Homo sapiens: one gene and its partner. The main gene of each other region encodes a partner of the protein of the gene in region 2 in a complex. Each region holds a gene or a part of one and is shown on either strand. Other genes may lie near its edges.

Region 1 (7,940 bases), on a different chromosome or scaffold from region 2:
TCCGGCAGGCTCTGGAGCTTGCCCAGGTCGAGGGTGGATGTCGAAATCCGGGGACGCTCCCTGAAAGGCAAGACTTGGGCATTGGGAGGGTGTGGGCAAAGGTAGGTGAACGATCCAACTACAGCGAGCTGAGGGGCGGGAGAATGTACAGAGGAGCAATGTGGCCACCACAAGCCTTAATGGAGCACCTACAACTGGCCAGGCTAGTGTCAGGGACTTAGGATACTACCCCAAACCAAGGACATGGGCAGGGGTACAATCTCGGCAGGAAGACAGTCCTCGAATGTGACCAGAGTACTTGCAAAAGGTACTGCAAGGGAGGGGTAAAGCCAGCACATGTTATGGGAACTTAATGAAGGCACAGAGCCCTGTGGTTGAAACTGGGCCAAGGCTATCACACTGCACAACTCGGAAGTCATCAGTGTATACACATGTATGTGAATGACACCCCTGGAATTGGGCAGTGCCCAGCCTGTGCAACCATATGTAGCCAGGGTATCAAAAGCTCCCTAGCGGAACAGAACAAACACAATGTGATTCTAGAGAGGTCAGAATACCTAGAGAATGCCCCCAGACCCCCAGGCAGAGCTGGGACCTACTGCAGGATCTGGGCACCCTCTGGATCCCTCCTCATCTGGTCCCTGAGGACCTTCAGGGTGCGGTGTCCTGTGGTCTCCCCTAGAACTGCGACCATGTCTGAAAGGACAGAAACGGGCACAAATGGGGGATGTCATCTTAGGTAAGTTAGCTGACCTGGTCTGAGCCTTTGTTTCCTACAGGATAAATTAGGGATGATGTCTAGCTCTTTGTTATAAGGATTCAGGCTAAACACTTAGCAAATTACCCAGCACACAACAAGGGATCAGTATACATATCTATAGTTCTTATTCTTAATCTACTGGGGCGGGACAGCTCTAGTTAGCACAACGTTGTAAAGATTTTATAAATCACTTTTCACAATACAATATCATGTCTCCATTGATTGGTAGAGGCTTAGGCATCAGAGATGCTGGGCTACAGTCCAGGTGTGTTCACTATCTAGGTGACCTAGTACAAATTGCTTCACATTTCTGTTTTGTTTTGTTTTTTTGAGACAGGGTCTTGCTCTGTTGCCCAGGCTGGAGTGAAGTGGTGTGATCATAGCTCACTGCTAGGACTACAGGCATGCAGCTAGTTTTTTAAATTTTCTGTAGAGATGAGGTCTTGCTATGTTGCCCAGGCTGGTCTTGAACTTTGGCCCCAAGTGATCCTCCCACCTTGGATTCCCAAATTGCTGGGATTACAGGTGTGAGCCACCATGCCTGGCCTGCTTCACATTTTTCAGCCTCAGTGTCTTAATTTGTGAAGTGCAGACAACACCTTTCTTAGCTGGTTAATGTGAGAAACCATGAAAATCATATATATATAACACTTAGTGGCCAAGTGTAGCGGCTGACACCTGTAATCTCAACACTGGGGGGCTGAGGCAGGAGGATCACTTGAGGCCAAGAGTTCCAGAGCAGCCTGGGCAACGTGGCAAGACGCCGTCTCTACAAAAAAATTAAAAAATTCGCTGGTCTTGGCCGGGCGTGGTGGCTCATGCCTGTAATCCCAACACTTTGGGAGGCCGAGGTGGGAGGATCACCTGAAGTCAGGAGTTTGAGACCAGCCTGGGCAACATAGCAAAATCCCGTCTCTACTAAAAATACAACAATTAGCCAGGCCGCACAGGCCTGTAATCCCAGCTACTCAGGAGGCTGAGGCACGAGAATCGCTTGAACCTGGGAGGTGGAAGTTGCATAGAGCTGAGATTGCGCCACTGCACTCCAGCGTGGGCCACAGAGCAATACTGTGTCTCAAAACAAAACAAACAAAAAACCACTGGGGACATGGAGATATAGTGTATTTTTTGTTTAAGACAGGGTCTCGCTCTGTCGCCCAGGCTGGAGTGCAATGGCGCAATCACAACTTACTGCAGTCTCGAACTCCCCGGCTCAAATGGTCCTTCCACCTCAGCCTGGGAATACAGCCGCATGCAACCAGCCCCAATTAATTCTTGTATTTTTTTTTGTAGAGATGGGGATTCACCGTGTTGCCCAGGCTGGTTTCAAACTCCTCAGCTCAAGCCATCTGCCCGCTTCGGCCCCCCGATAGGGATTATAGGCGTGAGCCACTATAATAGCGCCTAGCCTGTTTTTGTTAGTAGGAATAACAGTACTTCCCAGAACTCAAAAATCTAGGAGGCATAAGAAAAACACTGTAGAACCCTAGAATGTTCTAGTCACACATCCAGCAAACATTTATTGAGCATTTACTATGTGCCAGGCACTATCCAGAAGGCTGCAGATGCAGTGGAACGAGGCAGACATGGTCCTCGACCTCGGAGTTGACTTTCTAGTAGGATATTATAAACTGATCGGTACTTATGAATCATCTATTTAGTCTAGATGTTCTCAATATGGCTGCATGACAGATTCTCCCAAGTAGTTTAAAGACAGACTTTCGGTTTCACGCCCATTTCTCCCTCCACTGCAGATTCAGATTCAGATTCAGTGCGTTTAGGTGGGATCCAGGAATCTGCATTTTCATAAACGTTCCGAGTGGTTACGAGCTGCAACCAGGTTTGGGTACCCCGACCTAGGCTATGTTCCAGTTACCCACAGGAAACGGCTCCAAGCCGCCCCCACGGGGGCGAGGCGCGGGCGGCCTTACCGTGGCGGTAGGGGTTATAGAGCGCCATCGCCGCGGAGCCGGCGGCCAACAGCCCTTTCTGCAGCGGGGAGGTGGGGAGGTGGTGCGAGTATAGCGGGCCGGCGCCGTCGCTCCTAGCCCGGAGGGGCATTTCTGCGGGGCAAGAAAAAGGCCGAGGTCAGAGGAGCCGGGCGCCCTCAGGCTCCTTCCCGCCTGCGCCCAGAACCCGGCGCCACTTGCCTGCCGCAGGCCGCTGTAGGCCCGGGAGCCCGCAGAGCCGACGGAGGACAGGGCGCAGCAGAGTCGCCATGGCAGCGGGCGTCCGCGGAGGATGGGCGGGTACGAAGAACGCCGCGATTCTGTCAGGCGACGGAGCGTCGGAGGGGTCAAAACTCACTGAAAAACCGATTCTGACGGCGTAGCCTACGGCCTTTCGAGGGGAAACATCGCTTCACGGGCAGAAGGCATGTAGGCCAAGTAGGCGAAGGAAACGCACGCGAACTGTCTACCGTCTACGTCCACCGATCCAAGACTCTCGCCATGTCACCTCGCCCCAGAAAGTGTCTGCAAAGGACACGCAACCACGCTCACTCAGCGCCGGGCCCTATTTCCTTCTCCACAGCCGGTTTTCCCCGAAGACTATAAAATGCGAACCTCTTCCGGCTGTGGAACATGGCGGCGCCCGTGGAAAGGACCACATTTGGGGGCGGGGCCTGGCGGTACTTCCGTCCAGGTCCAGCGGGTGCTGTGATCTTCAAGTATGGGGTCTGCTGGCTTGTCGCGGCTGCATGGGCTTTTCGCGGTCTATAAGCCCCCGGGGCTAAAATGGAAGCACCTGCGGGATACAGTGGAGCTACAACTTCTGAAGGGTGAGTGCCTCGAACCAGACCCACGTTCCCGCTCTCGTTCTCTTGGAAGTCCATCTCCGCTTCTGGTCCTTACCCCAAAACAAAATCACGTGACCTATTCACCTGGGCAGAGCGCTTTCCCAAACGCCTGTTCTCTGTGCTTTCTTACTCCTCACTTTCCTCTGTTTTCCGAGGGGGAAACTGACTCAGTATTGTTCCTTGTCACACGGTTACTACGTTGTAGAGTCTGTTTGAATCCGCCTGTTTCTTAACTACTGCTATACTGCCCTCTGCACCATGGGCTTCTGCTTTGTCTTCTACATCATACTTCCCTGTTGTCTAATCCCCCAAGTGTTTGGACAGAACAAGATATTCCTGGTCAGCATCGTGGTGCACGCCTGTAATCCCAGCTACTCTGGAGGCTGAGGCAGGAGGATCGCTTGAGCCCAAGAGTTTGACGTTACAGTGAGCTATGATGGCGCCATTGCACTTCAGCCTGGGCTACAGAACGAGGCCCTGTCTCTTAAAAAATATTTTATATGTACATATATTTGTATGTATGTGTGTATATATTATCTCTGTGTGTTCAGGTCTCAATGCCAGGAAGCCTCCCGCTCCTAAACAGCGTGTTCGCTTCTTGCTGGGCCCCATGGAAGGCAGCGAAGAGAAGGAGCTGACCCTCACAGCCACCAGCGTACCCTCTTTCATCAACCATCCACTGGGTAAGGCAGATTTAAGCAGGATCCTGTGTGTCACTTCCCAGGAAATCCCTGAGCCGAGTCAGTGTCCCAGTGCTCAGATTCCTGTGCCAGGCCCTTGAAGGTCCACAGAGGAGTGAGGTATTAGACCAGGAATTGGCAGATTTCCTTGGAAAGGGCCAGATACTGAATGTTTTAGTTTTCAGGCCATGTGATTTCCGTTGGAACTGCTCAACTCTGCCAATGTAGTGCCAAACAGCTATAGACAGTATCTAAAGGAATGAGCCTAGCTGTATTCCAATAGAACTTTATGAATATTCATATTTGAACTTCAGGTAATTTTCACGTGTCACTAAGTACAGTTGCCTCTGAGTCCATGAGTTCCACATCCCATGATCCAGCTTCAGATTGGCAGTATTTGGGAAGAAAAACACAAAGTTCCAAAAAGCAAAACTTGAATTTGCTGTGCACCTAGTACTGTGTTGAATCCACTCAAGGTGATGCATAGGCATTATATTAGGCATTATAAGTAATCTAGCTAGGCGTGGTGGCTCACGCCTGTAATCCCAGCATTTTGAGAGGCCGAGGAGGGTGGATCATGAGGTCAAGAGATCGAGACCATCCTGGCCAACATGGTGAAACCCCGTCTCTACTAAAAATACAAAAATTAGCCGGGAGTGGTGGCAGGCGCCTGTAGTCCCAGTTGCTCAGGAGGCTGAGGCAGGAGAATCACTTGAACCCGGGAGGCGGAGGTTGCAGTGAGCCGAAATTGTGCCACTGCACGCCAGCCTGGCAACAGAGCGAGACTCCGTCTCAAAAAAAAAAAGGTAATCTAGAGATGATTTAAAATATATGGGAAGGCCAGGCCTGGTGGCTCATGCTTGTAATCCCAGCACTTTGGGAAGCTGAGGCGGTGGATTACTTGAGCCTAGGAGTTTAACATCAGCCTGGGCAACATGGGGAAACCCTACTTCTACAAGAGAATACAAAAGGCCGGGTGCAGTGGCTCACACCTGTAATCCCAGCACTTTGGGAGGCTGAGGCGAGCAGATCACCTGAGGTCGGGAGTTCGAGACCAGCCTGGCCAACATGGAGAAACCCCGTCTCTACTAAAAATACAAAATTAGACAGGTGTGGTGGCACATGCCTATAATCCCAGGTTCTCAGGAGGCTGAGGCAGGAGAATTGCTTGAACCCGGGAGTCGGAGGTTGCGGTGAGCTTAGGTTGTGCCATTGCACTCTAGCCTGGACAATAAGAGTGAAACTGTCTCAAAAAAAAAAAAAAATTAGCCAGGTGGGGTGGCATATGCCTGTAGTTCCAGCTACTCGGGAGGTTGAGGTGGGAGAATCACTTGAGCCCAGGAGTTCAGAGGCTGCAGTGAGCCGAGACTGTGCCAGTGCACTCCAGCCTGGGTGACAGAGTGAGACTCTGTCTCCAAAAAAAATAAAGAGGCTGAGGTGGGCGGATCACGAGGTCAGGAAATCGAGACCATCCTGGCTAATACGGTGATACCCTGTCTCTACTAAAAATACAAAGAAATTAGCCGGGCGTGGTGGTGGGCGCCTGTAGTCCCAGCTACTCCAGAGGCTGAGGCAGGAGAATGGCGTGAACCCAGGAGGCGGAGCTTGCAGTGAGCGGAGATCGTGCCACTGCACTCCAGCCTGGGCGACACAGCGAGACTCAGTCTCAAAAAAAAAAAAAGTGGCCAGGTGTGGTGGCTCACGCCTGTAATCGCTGCACTTTGGGAGGCCAAGGTGGGCGGATCACTTGAGGTCAGGAGTTCAAGACATGGCAAAGCCCCGTCTCTAGTAAAAATTAGCTGGGCATGATAGCACGTACCTGTAATCCCAGCTACTCAGGAGGCTGAGTTACGAGGAGTCGCACGAACCTGGGAGGCAGAGGTTGTGGTGAGCCATGATCGTGCCACTGCACTCCAGCCTGGGTGAAAGAGTGAGACTCTGCCTCAAAAAAAAAAAAAAAAGGTATATGGGACGACATGCCTAGGTTATATGCAAATACTATGCCATTTTATATCAGGGACTTGAACATCTACAAATTTTGGTATCTGCAAGGGATCCTGGACCCAATCCCCTTGGATACCAAGGGACAACTGTAGTATTCTATTTATTTAGAGACAGGGTCTCACTCTGTCACCCAGGCTGGAGGGCAGTGGTGAGATCTCGGCTCACTGAAACCTCTGCCTCCTGAGTTCAAGCAGTCTTCTCACCTAAGCCTCCCGAGTAGCTGGGACTACAGGCACAGGCCACTATGCCTGGCTAATTTTTTTTTTTTTTTTGAGACGGAGTCATGCTCTGTTGCCCAGGCTGGAGTGCAGTGGCACGATCTCGGCTCACTGCAAGCTTCTCCTCCTGGGTTCACGCCATTCTCCTGCCTCAGCCTCCCGAGTAGCTGGGACTACAGGCGCCCGCCACCACGCCCAGCTAATTTTTTGTATTTTTAGTAGAGACGGGGTTTCACCATGTTAGGCAGGATAGTCTCGATCTCCTGACCTCGTGATCCACCCGCCTCGGCCTCCCAAAGTGCTGGGATTACAGGTGTGAGCCACCACGCCCGGCCATGCCTGGCTAATTTTTGTATTTTTTGTAGAGATGGGGTTTTGTCACGTTGCCCATGCTAGTATTGAACTCCTGGGCTCAAGTGATCTGCCTGCCTCGGCGTCTCAAAGTGCTGGGATTATAAGCGTGAGCCCTTGCAACTGGTCTCTTGATTTATTTTGAACCACTGAAAAATGCAAAAACCATTCTTAACTCATAGGCCACAAAAAACAAGCCAGATGCGGTGGCTCATTCATGTAATCCCAGCACTTTGGGAGGCCGAGGCAGGCGGATCACTTGAGGTCAAGAGTTCAAGACCAGCCTGGCCAACATGATGAAACTCCGTCTCTACTAAAAATACAAAAAATTAGCTAGGTATGGAGGCAGGTGCCTGTAATCCTAGCTACTCAGGAGGCTGAGGCATGAGAATCGCTTGAATCTGGGAGGTGGAGGTTGCAGTGAGTTGAGATGGCGCCACTGCACTCCAGCCTGGGTGACAAAGTGAGACTCCATCTCAAAACAAAACAAAACAAAACAAGCAAACACACACACACAAAAAAAAAACAGTCTTCAGTCTTCAGGTTTGACTTGTGGACTGTAGTTTGCTGACCCTTTTTCTATTCTGGGACTCCAGGTGAGAAATGAGACCCTAGGTAGAAGTCCTAAGGTAGGGGTTTTGGGTTTCTGGGAAAGAATAAGTTTATTTATTTATTTATTTGACAGAGTCTTGCTCTGTTGCCCAGGCTGGAGTCTGGAGTGCAGTGGTGTGATCTCAGCTCACTGCAACCTCCATCTCCCAGGTTCAAGCTATTCTCTTGCCTCAGCCTCCCAAGTAGCTGGGATTACAGGTGTGTGCCACCACACCCAGCTAATTTTTGTATTTTTAGTAGAGATGGGGTTTCACCATGTTGGCCAGGCTGGTCTCGAACTCCTGACCTCAGGTGATCCGCCCACCTTGGCCTCCCAAAGTGCTGGGATTACAGGTGTGAGCCACTGCGCCCAGCCGAAAGAGTGATTTTTTTACTGAATAAAGTTGCCCAACAATGGAACTGGTTCTGGTAATGTGTCCCCATCACTAGATGTGATTAAGGCATGTGTCAGGGAATCTAGAGGTTTGACCAGAAACCTCAAAAACCCGTTGGACTTGTGATATTCAATGACTCTATTA
Region 2 (7,229 bases):
CTCCAGAGTAGCTAGGACTACAGGCAGGTGCCACCATGCCCAGCTACATTTTTATATTTTTAGTAGAGACGGGGTTTCACCATGTTGCCCAGGCTGGTCTCGAACTCCTGAGCTCAAGCAATCCTCCCACCTTGGCTTCCCAAAGTGCTGGGATTACAGGCGTGAGCCACCATGCCCAGCCAGCATTGGTATCACTTTGTAATGTTTTAGGGCTCTTAGCCGTGACTACCATGTCTTTTATGCAAACTTCTTTTCACTTAGGCTAACTTCAACAGCCAGCGAATATGTGGAAAAAATTCATTTTAGATACATATGTGGTTCTTTCATGACAAAGGCTTGAGTGCTTTGGACACAAGGTAGTGAGGTGGGTTGGTGAAATTTGGGGTGGCTCTGAACTTGAAATCTTCTACCAGATGGGGTTGTAAATGTCACACTTTTAACAAAGAAGCGTGGACCTAAGTTCTGAAGCATAGTGACCCAGCTTTGGTCTACTCCTCGCCATGATCCTCTCCATCTCACTGAGCATATCTGACTAAAGAGACTGCATAGGCCGGGTGTGGTGGCTCATGCCTGTAATCCCAGCACTTTGGGAAGCTGAGGCAGGTGGACTGCTTGAGACCAGGAGTTCAAGACCAGCCTGGCCAAAATGGTGAAAACCCATCTCTACCAAAAATATAAAAATTAGCCAGGCATCGTGGCACGTGCCTGTAGTCCCAGCTACTCAGGAGGCTGAGGCAGAACAATCACTTGAACCCAGTAGGCAAAGGCTGCAGTGAGCTAAGATCATACCATTACACTCCAGCCTCGGTGACAGAGTGAGACTCTGTCTCAAAAAAAGAAAAAAAGAAGCATAAAACATGTGTCCCATCTCTAACACTAGCCTTGGGAAAATCAGGATCGACATTTCTTACATATAAAATTGGCTGGGTGCGGCGACTCACGCCTGTAATCCCAGCACTTTGGGAAGCCAAGGAGGGAGAATCACTTGAGGTCAGGAGTTCGAGACCAGCCTGGTCATCATGGCGAAACCCCGTCTCTACCAAAAATTCAAAAATTAGCCAGGCGTGGTGGTGCATGCATGCAGCCTCAGCTACTCGGGAGTCTGAGGCAGGAGAATCACTTGAACCCAGGAGGCGGAGGTTGCAGTGAGCTGAGATCGCGCCACTGCACTCCAGCCTGGGCGACAAAGCAAGACTCTGCCTCAAAAAAAAAAAAAAAAAAAGGCAATAATCAGGCTCTTTCCTTTTTAAGGGAAAACATACAATAATAAACTTTTCTTACTGAGTTATGAGGATAAAATAAGATATAAGAAGCAAAGTAACTTTATAAACAGAAATGAGTCTTATTCTGTTATGCTCACTGGCTGAACAGAGCAGCATTAAAATTCACATTCAACAACCCTCGGAGTTTTGCCTGCATTACCATATACTTTAAAGTAAAATTGAGGCTCGGTGCTAGCTCTCAAATGCATCACTTTATGTCCATATTTTCCCAAAGTGTGAAACATGCCAGTGTGGTACCTACAAAATATTAAGTGGCTTATGGATATGCAGCAAATAACCCCATGTAGTAAGGGGTACTCTTTCAAAATCTCTTGCAATCTCTTTCATTAAGGAAGATAACTCCATTTACAGCTGGTATAGCCTTAACACTTTCCCAACACTTGCTAATTTCCCCTTTGTAACAGAAAGACAGTATTTAATACAATTTCATAACTTTTTAATTTGTTTGTTTTTTTTTAATGATTACTCACCCATTTGTGGCAAGTGGCACTGGCTTCCCATTCACCATAAGGATTTTGTTTCAAGGAAATTAATTTAATTTTTAAATGGGACATAGCTATACAAAAAAACACATCTAGTAATCAAAAGTTCAAGCAGTACTGCCATTAGGCAAAAATCCCGAAAGTGGTACACGGTAATTTAACGTTGAGAAAACGACTTCATGAAATTTCTTTTTTTTTTTTTTTTTTGCGCGGGGGAGACAAAGTCTCGCTCTGACGCCCAGGTTGCAGTGCAGTGGTGCAATCTCGCCTCAAAGCAATCTCTGCCTCCCGGGTTCAAGCGATTCTCCTGTCTCAGCCTCCTGAGTAGCTGGGATTACAGGCACCTGCCATCACGCCTGGCAAATTTTTGTATTTTTAGTAGAGGCGGGGTTTCACCATGTTGGCCAGGCTGGTCTCAAACTCCTGACCTCAGGGGATCCTCCAGCCTCGGCCTCCCAAAGTGCTGAGATTATAGGCCGGAGCCACCGCGCCCGGGCTCATGACAATTTTCTAAGGCAGCACAGATGAAACAAGGAAAGCAGGAACCAGGGTCCAAAACCATGTCTCTCTACTCTAAATTCGATGCTCCTTCCACTACACTGATGGCTTTCACAGTTTACAGTGCATGCAAATCACCTAAAGGTCCTGTTCACAGATCACAGATACCGACCAAGTAGGTCGGGGTGGGGCCCGAGAATCTGTATTTCTAGCGAGCGCCCAGAAGTAGCGGAGGCTGCTGGTCGTCGGGCTACCCTTTGCCTGGCAAGGCCCTGGGCAAAGACTACAAAGAGAGAGACTCCCGGAGACGCTGAATTTTCAGTGTCGCCAACTGTCCTCGACTCGGAACGCTGGCCGCACCTGCCGTGACATCACTGCACAGGGGTGCAATTGCGTCACTCCCCAGGCGTCACTGCCGAAACAACCCCTGTCCTCCTGTCACTCTCGCCGCTAACTACAGACCCCGCCCCGCCCGCCAGCGCCCCGGAGGCCGAAGTCACGCAGTCGCGCTCCGTCGCAGGCCTGTGACGTTACGAACCTCTCCCCCGTGACCTCTTCGACCCAAACCTCAAGCGAAAATTCCCTAGCTCGCTAGACCGGCGCAGGACTGTGACTGCGCGCCTCCTTTTACCTGAGAGGGACCGCCGGGCCCCCGGGCGCAGCCGCCAAAGGCGGGGAGCCGCCGCCGCCCCGGCGCAACTCATTGCCGGAACTAAAAAAAGCAACCACTTCGTTGAACGGAACTGGCCAATAGTGCCCTTGGCTCGGACTGATGACGCACAGCAGACGTAAGGAAGGCTCAGCTCGCCCGCGCACCGGTGGGAACGCCCCCTAGCTCTGCGCTAGGGGTTAGATTGGTTAGATACGACAAATAAAAAGATTTTATTGGGTGGGGTCACTGTCAATCACTCGGAAGACCAAGGCCAAGGCGCCTTGGGTTGCCAGGGAGATGAAAATGCTAAATTGCTGTTTAGAAAGATCAGGACAAGGTTATGATTTCTCACCCAAGTTCCTGGGGAAAAGGATCATGAGGGAATTACTTATTAACAAGGCACGGTATTTCCTGCTTTACCTACGTGGAAGGAGATTTTTTTTTTTATTTGTATCCTACATCTACTTTAAAATAGTAAGCCTGGGCAACATAGCGAGACCCCGCCTCTACAAATAATTTTAAAAATTAGCCGGGTCTGGTGGAGCACACCTGTAGTCCCAGCTACTCGGGAGGCTGAGGTGGGGGGATAGCTTGAGCCCGGTAGCTCGAGGCTGCAGTCAGCCGTGATTCTGCCACTGCACTCTAGCCTGGGCCCTGTCTGAAAAATAAATAAATAAATAAAATTATATGTATATCTAAATTACATGCACCACATGGTTAATGGTGTTATATAGTGTTATCTCTATTGGTGGGCTGAAAGCCAACTTTAAACTTCTTCCCGGTCTTTTCTCTATTTTCAGAAACAGAGAACATGTTTTATCCTTGGTATCCACCTTAATGTACTGTGTGCATGTATGCATGTATATTTGTGCAAATTGGAATTTTTTGAGAAGGGAGGGGAAATTTAGCAACATACTTTAAAAAGATCATATAATACAGCAGTCTTACTTTTAGGAATCTACTCAACGAAATAATTTTTAAATGAGTAATGTACATGAGGGCAAAAATCAAAGATGCGTGTCTGCAAGGATATACAACGTTTAATATTGGCAACATCAGGGGGCTGGAACTGGGAGAAGGGAGCTTTCACTTTCTACTTTACACCCTTGGATTATTTATATACTTTATCCAAGTTTACCATAAAATATTTTAAGATGGAATACAATTGTAAAATTATTGAATTCAAGTTTTTAGTTTTTATATCACTCTAGTGTTCAAATTGACACACCAAAATAATTTAAAATTATGATGAACCCAAATACTACTTAGTGAGGATGTTGTAGCACTCTCATGTAAAACTACTGAGTGTCTGAATCTGGCGCTCAAAAGCCTTAAAATGTTCAAAACCTTTGCTGTAATACCACTTCTAGGTCTCTGTTTCCTTTTTGTTTTGTTTTTTGTTTTTGTTCTTTTTAAATGGAGTTTCACTCTGTCGCACAGGCTGGATTGCAGTGGGGAGACCTTGGCTCACTGGAACCTCTGCCTCCCGGGTTCAAGCGATTCTCCTGCCTCAGCCTCCCAAGTAGATGGGATTACAGGTACACACACCACCACGCCCAGCTGAGACTGGGTTTCGCTGTGTTGGCCAGGCTGGTCTCAAATTCCTGACCTCAAGTGATCCTCCCACCTTGTCCTCCCAAAGTGCTGGGATTATAGGCGTGAGCCGCCACGCCTGGCCTAGGTCTCTGTTTCTAAGGAGAAAAAATGTTGACAAAGATTTATAGATGTGCCCATTATTTATTACTGGGAAAATTTGGAAACAAAATGTTAAGCAACAATTGAATATCAAAACATCATGTCCGAGTGCAGTGGCTCACGCCTGTAATCCCAACACTTTGGGAGACTGAGGCGAGAGGATCACTTGAGCCCAGGAGTTCAAGACCAGCCTGGGCAACACAGTGAGATTCCATCTCTACAAAAAATTTTAAAAATTAGTCAGGCATGGTGGTGTGTGCCTCTGATCCCACCTACTTGTGAGGCTAAAAGGATCACTTGAGCCCAGGAGGTTGAGGCTGCACTGAGCCATGATCACACCACTGCACTCCAGAGTGGGTGATAGACCTAGACTCTGGCTCAAAAAAAAAAAAAAAAATCCAACTGTATGATGTTATGTAGCCCATTGAAATGTTTGTAAAGAGCTTTTAATAACAGGAGAAAACACTAGATTCTTCAGGAAAACACATATTAAGTGAAAAAGAAATTAGAATACCAAAGTTCTTTCCTTCTTTTTCCTTCTTTTTCCCTCCCTCTGTACTTTCTATCTTAAAAAGAATTTTGCCAGGATTAACAGTGCGTGCCCATAAGTGCTGCTTTTTAAGTTTTTTTCTCTGTTGCTTTTGATGTTCTCTGTATTTGCTATAAAAAACAAGTATTTTTATAATGGCAAAACAAAATTTAAAAAACAAAAATGCATACTATTCCCTAATTCCATCCCCCTACCCACCAAATTATCCATTAAAAAAACTAGTTCCAGCCAGGCACGGAGGCTCACCCCTGTAATCCCAGACTTTGGGAGGCCGAAGTGGAAGGATCACTTGAGGTCAGCAGTTCAAGACCAGCCTGACCAACAGGGCAAAACCCCATCTCTACTAAAAGTACAAAAATTAGCTGGGCATGGTGGCACACACCTGTAGTCCCAGCTACTTGGGAGGCTGAGGCAGGAGAATCACTTGAACCCAGGTTGCAGTGAGCCGAGATCGCACTACTGCACTCCAGCCTGGGCAATAGAGTGAGACTACATCTCAAAAAAAAAAAAAAAAAAAAACACAGCCAGGCACAGTGGCTCACGCCTGTAATCCCAGCACTTTGGGAGGCCGAGGCGGGCAGATCATGAGGTCAGGAGATCAAGACCATCCTGATGAAACCCTGTCTCTATTAAAAATACAAAAAATTAGCCGGGTGTGGTGGTGGGCGCCTGTAGTCCCAGCTACTCGGGAGGCTGAGGCAGGAGAATGGTGAACCCGGGAGGCAGAGCTTGCAGTGAGCCGAGATCGCACTACTGCACTCCAGCCTGGGCAATAGAGACTACATATTAAAAAAAAAAAAAAAAAAAAAACACGGCCGGGCACGGTGGCTCACGCCTGTAATCCCAGCACTTTGGGAGGCCGAGGCAGGCAGACCACCTGAGGTCGGGAGTTTGAGACCAGCCTGACCAACATGGAGAAACCCCGTCTCTACTAAAAATACAAAATTAGCTGGGTGTAGTGGCGCATACCTGTAATCCCAGCTACTCGGGAGCCCGAGGCAGGAAAATCGCTTGAACCTGGGAGGTGTAGGTTGCAGTGAGCCAGTATCACCCCACTGCACTCCAGCCTAGGCAACAAGAGCAAGACTTCGTCTCAAACACACACACACACACACACACACAGAGAGAGAGAGAGAAAATACATACACAGGAAAACCCAGTTTCCAAAATTTCAGGGAGACTGATTTGAGTAATAATAATATTCTGGTCTCCTGTTTAGCCAGCTCTGCATGTATCAAACGCTTTCTCTGTTGCAATTCCTCTGCTGCAATTCCTCTGTCTTGATGAATGGGCTGTATCCAGGCAGCGGGCAAAATGAACCAGTTGGGCAGTTACACACATACACCCTCCTTGGCTTCAACAGAGCCAAGGAGCTTTAAAAGCACTCATCTGAGGACTACATTAAACACTTCTTTCTTTTCTCTCATTTTAGGAAAAAGCAAAGAGGAACTTTACAAACTATTACAGTTTTCCATCATCACTTGACTGCTGACAAGAAGCCTCTTTGAATTCCAGTATACACGATCACATTTTAAAACCTTCAAGACGCCGTTTAATCAGGAGTTGTAAGGCACATTTGTTAGAGAGAGCTGCACTTTAAAAGTTATACAGACATCACCTGAAGTTATTAAAGTTATCAAAACATATTAAAAACCTTCAAGTAAGAGGTATGCATATTAGCAGCATTTAACTAAAATTAATATATTAATTAGCATATTTCAGTATCACTTTTATAATAGGAAAAAAAACGCAGTACGTTTTCGTTGTGTTCATCACACACACACACACACACACACACAAATAGAAAACTTGAATATCATCAAGTCTGGTCACAGTGAAAATGTTATATAAATATAAAGGCACTGGGCAGAAATGTTTACAATTACAACTTTTTTTTTCTTTTCACCTATCTTTTTTTTTGAGATAGGGTCTCCCTCTGTCACCTAGGCTGGAGTACAGTGGCACGGTCTCGCACACTGCAGCCTTCACCTCCCAGGTTCAAGTGATTCTCATGCCTCAGCCTCCCAAGTAGCTGGGATTACAGGCACACGCCACCATGCCTGGCTAAT

Evidence for each region. The genes of interacting proteins can lie anywhere in the genome.
Region 1: COQ7 (region 2) and COQ4 share a complex: the UniProt entries of both Homo sapiens proteins name them as parts of the multi-subunit COQ enzyme complex.

The regions. Positions count from the first base shown.
Region 1 is NC_000009.12:128,317,899-128,325,838, reverse strand, and holds the start of COQ4 (ubiquinone biosynthesis protein COQ4 homolog, mitochondrial isoform 1 precursor), read right to left. Parts: upstream 3,001-7,940; 5' UTR 2,981-3,000; coding exon 2,911-2,980; intron 2,824-2,910; coding exon 2,692-2,823; intron 697-2,691; coding exon 600-696; intron 61-599; coding exon 1-60. Other genes in the region: TRUB2 (pseudouridylate synthase TRUB2, mitochondrial), read left to right, coding at 3,431-3,539, 4,109-4,240. UniProt on the Homo sapiens protein: Lyase that catalyzes the C1-decarboxylation of 4-hydroxy-3-methoxy-5-(all-trans-decaprenyl)benzoic acid into 2-methoxy-6-(all-trans-decaprenyl)phenol during ubiquinone biosynthesis.
Region 2 is NC_000016.10:19,063,403-19,070,631, reverse strand, and holds the start of COQ7 (NADPH-dependent 3-demethoxyubiquinone 3-hydroxylase, mitochondrial), read right to left. Parts: upstream 3,019-7,229; 5' UTR 2,968-3,018; coding exon 2,895-2,967; exon of another isoform or gene 2,802-2,894; intron 2,726-2,801; exon of another isoform or gene 2,624-2,725; intron 2,616-2,623; exon of another isoform or gene 2,402-2,615; intron 1,986-2,401; exon of another isoform or gene 1,785-1,985; coding exon of another isoform or gene 1,754-1,784; intron 1-1,753. UniProt on the Homo sapiens protein: Catalyzes the hydroxylation of the 5-methoxy-2-methyl-3-(all-trans-polyprenyl)benzoquinone at the C6 position and participates in the biosynthesis of ubiquinone.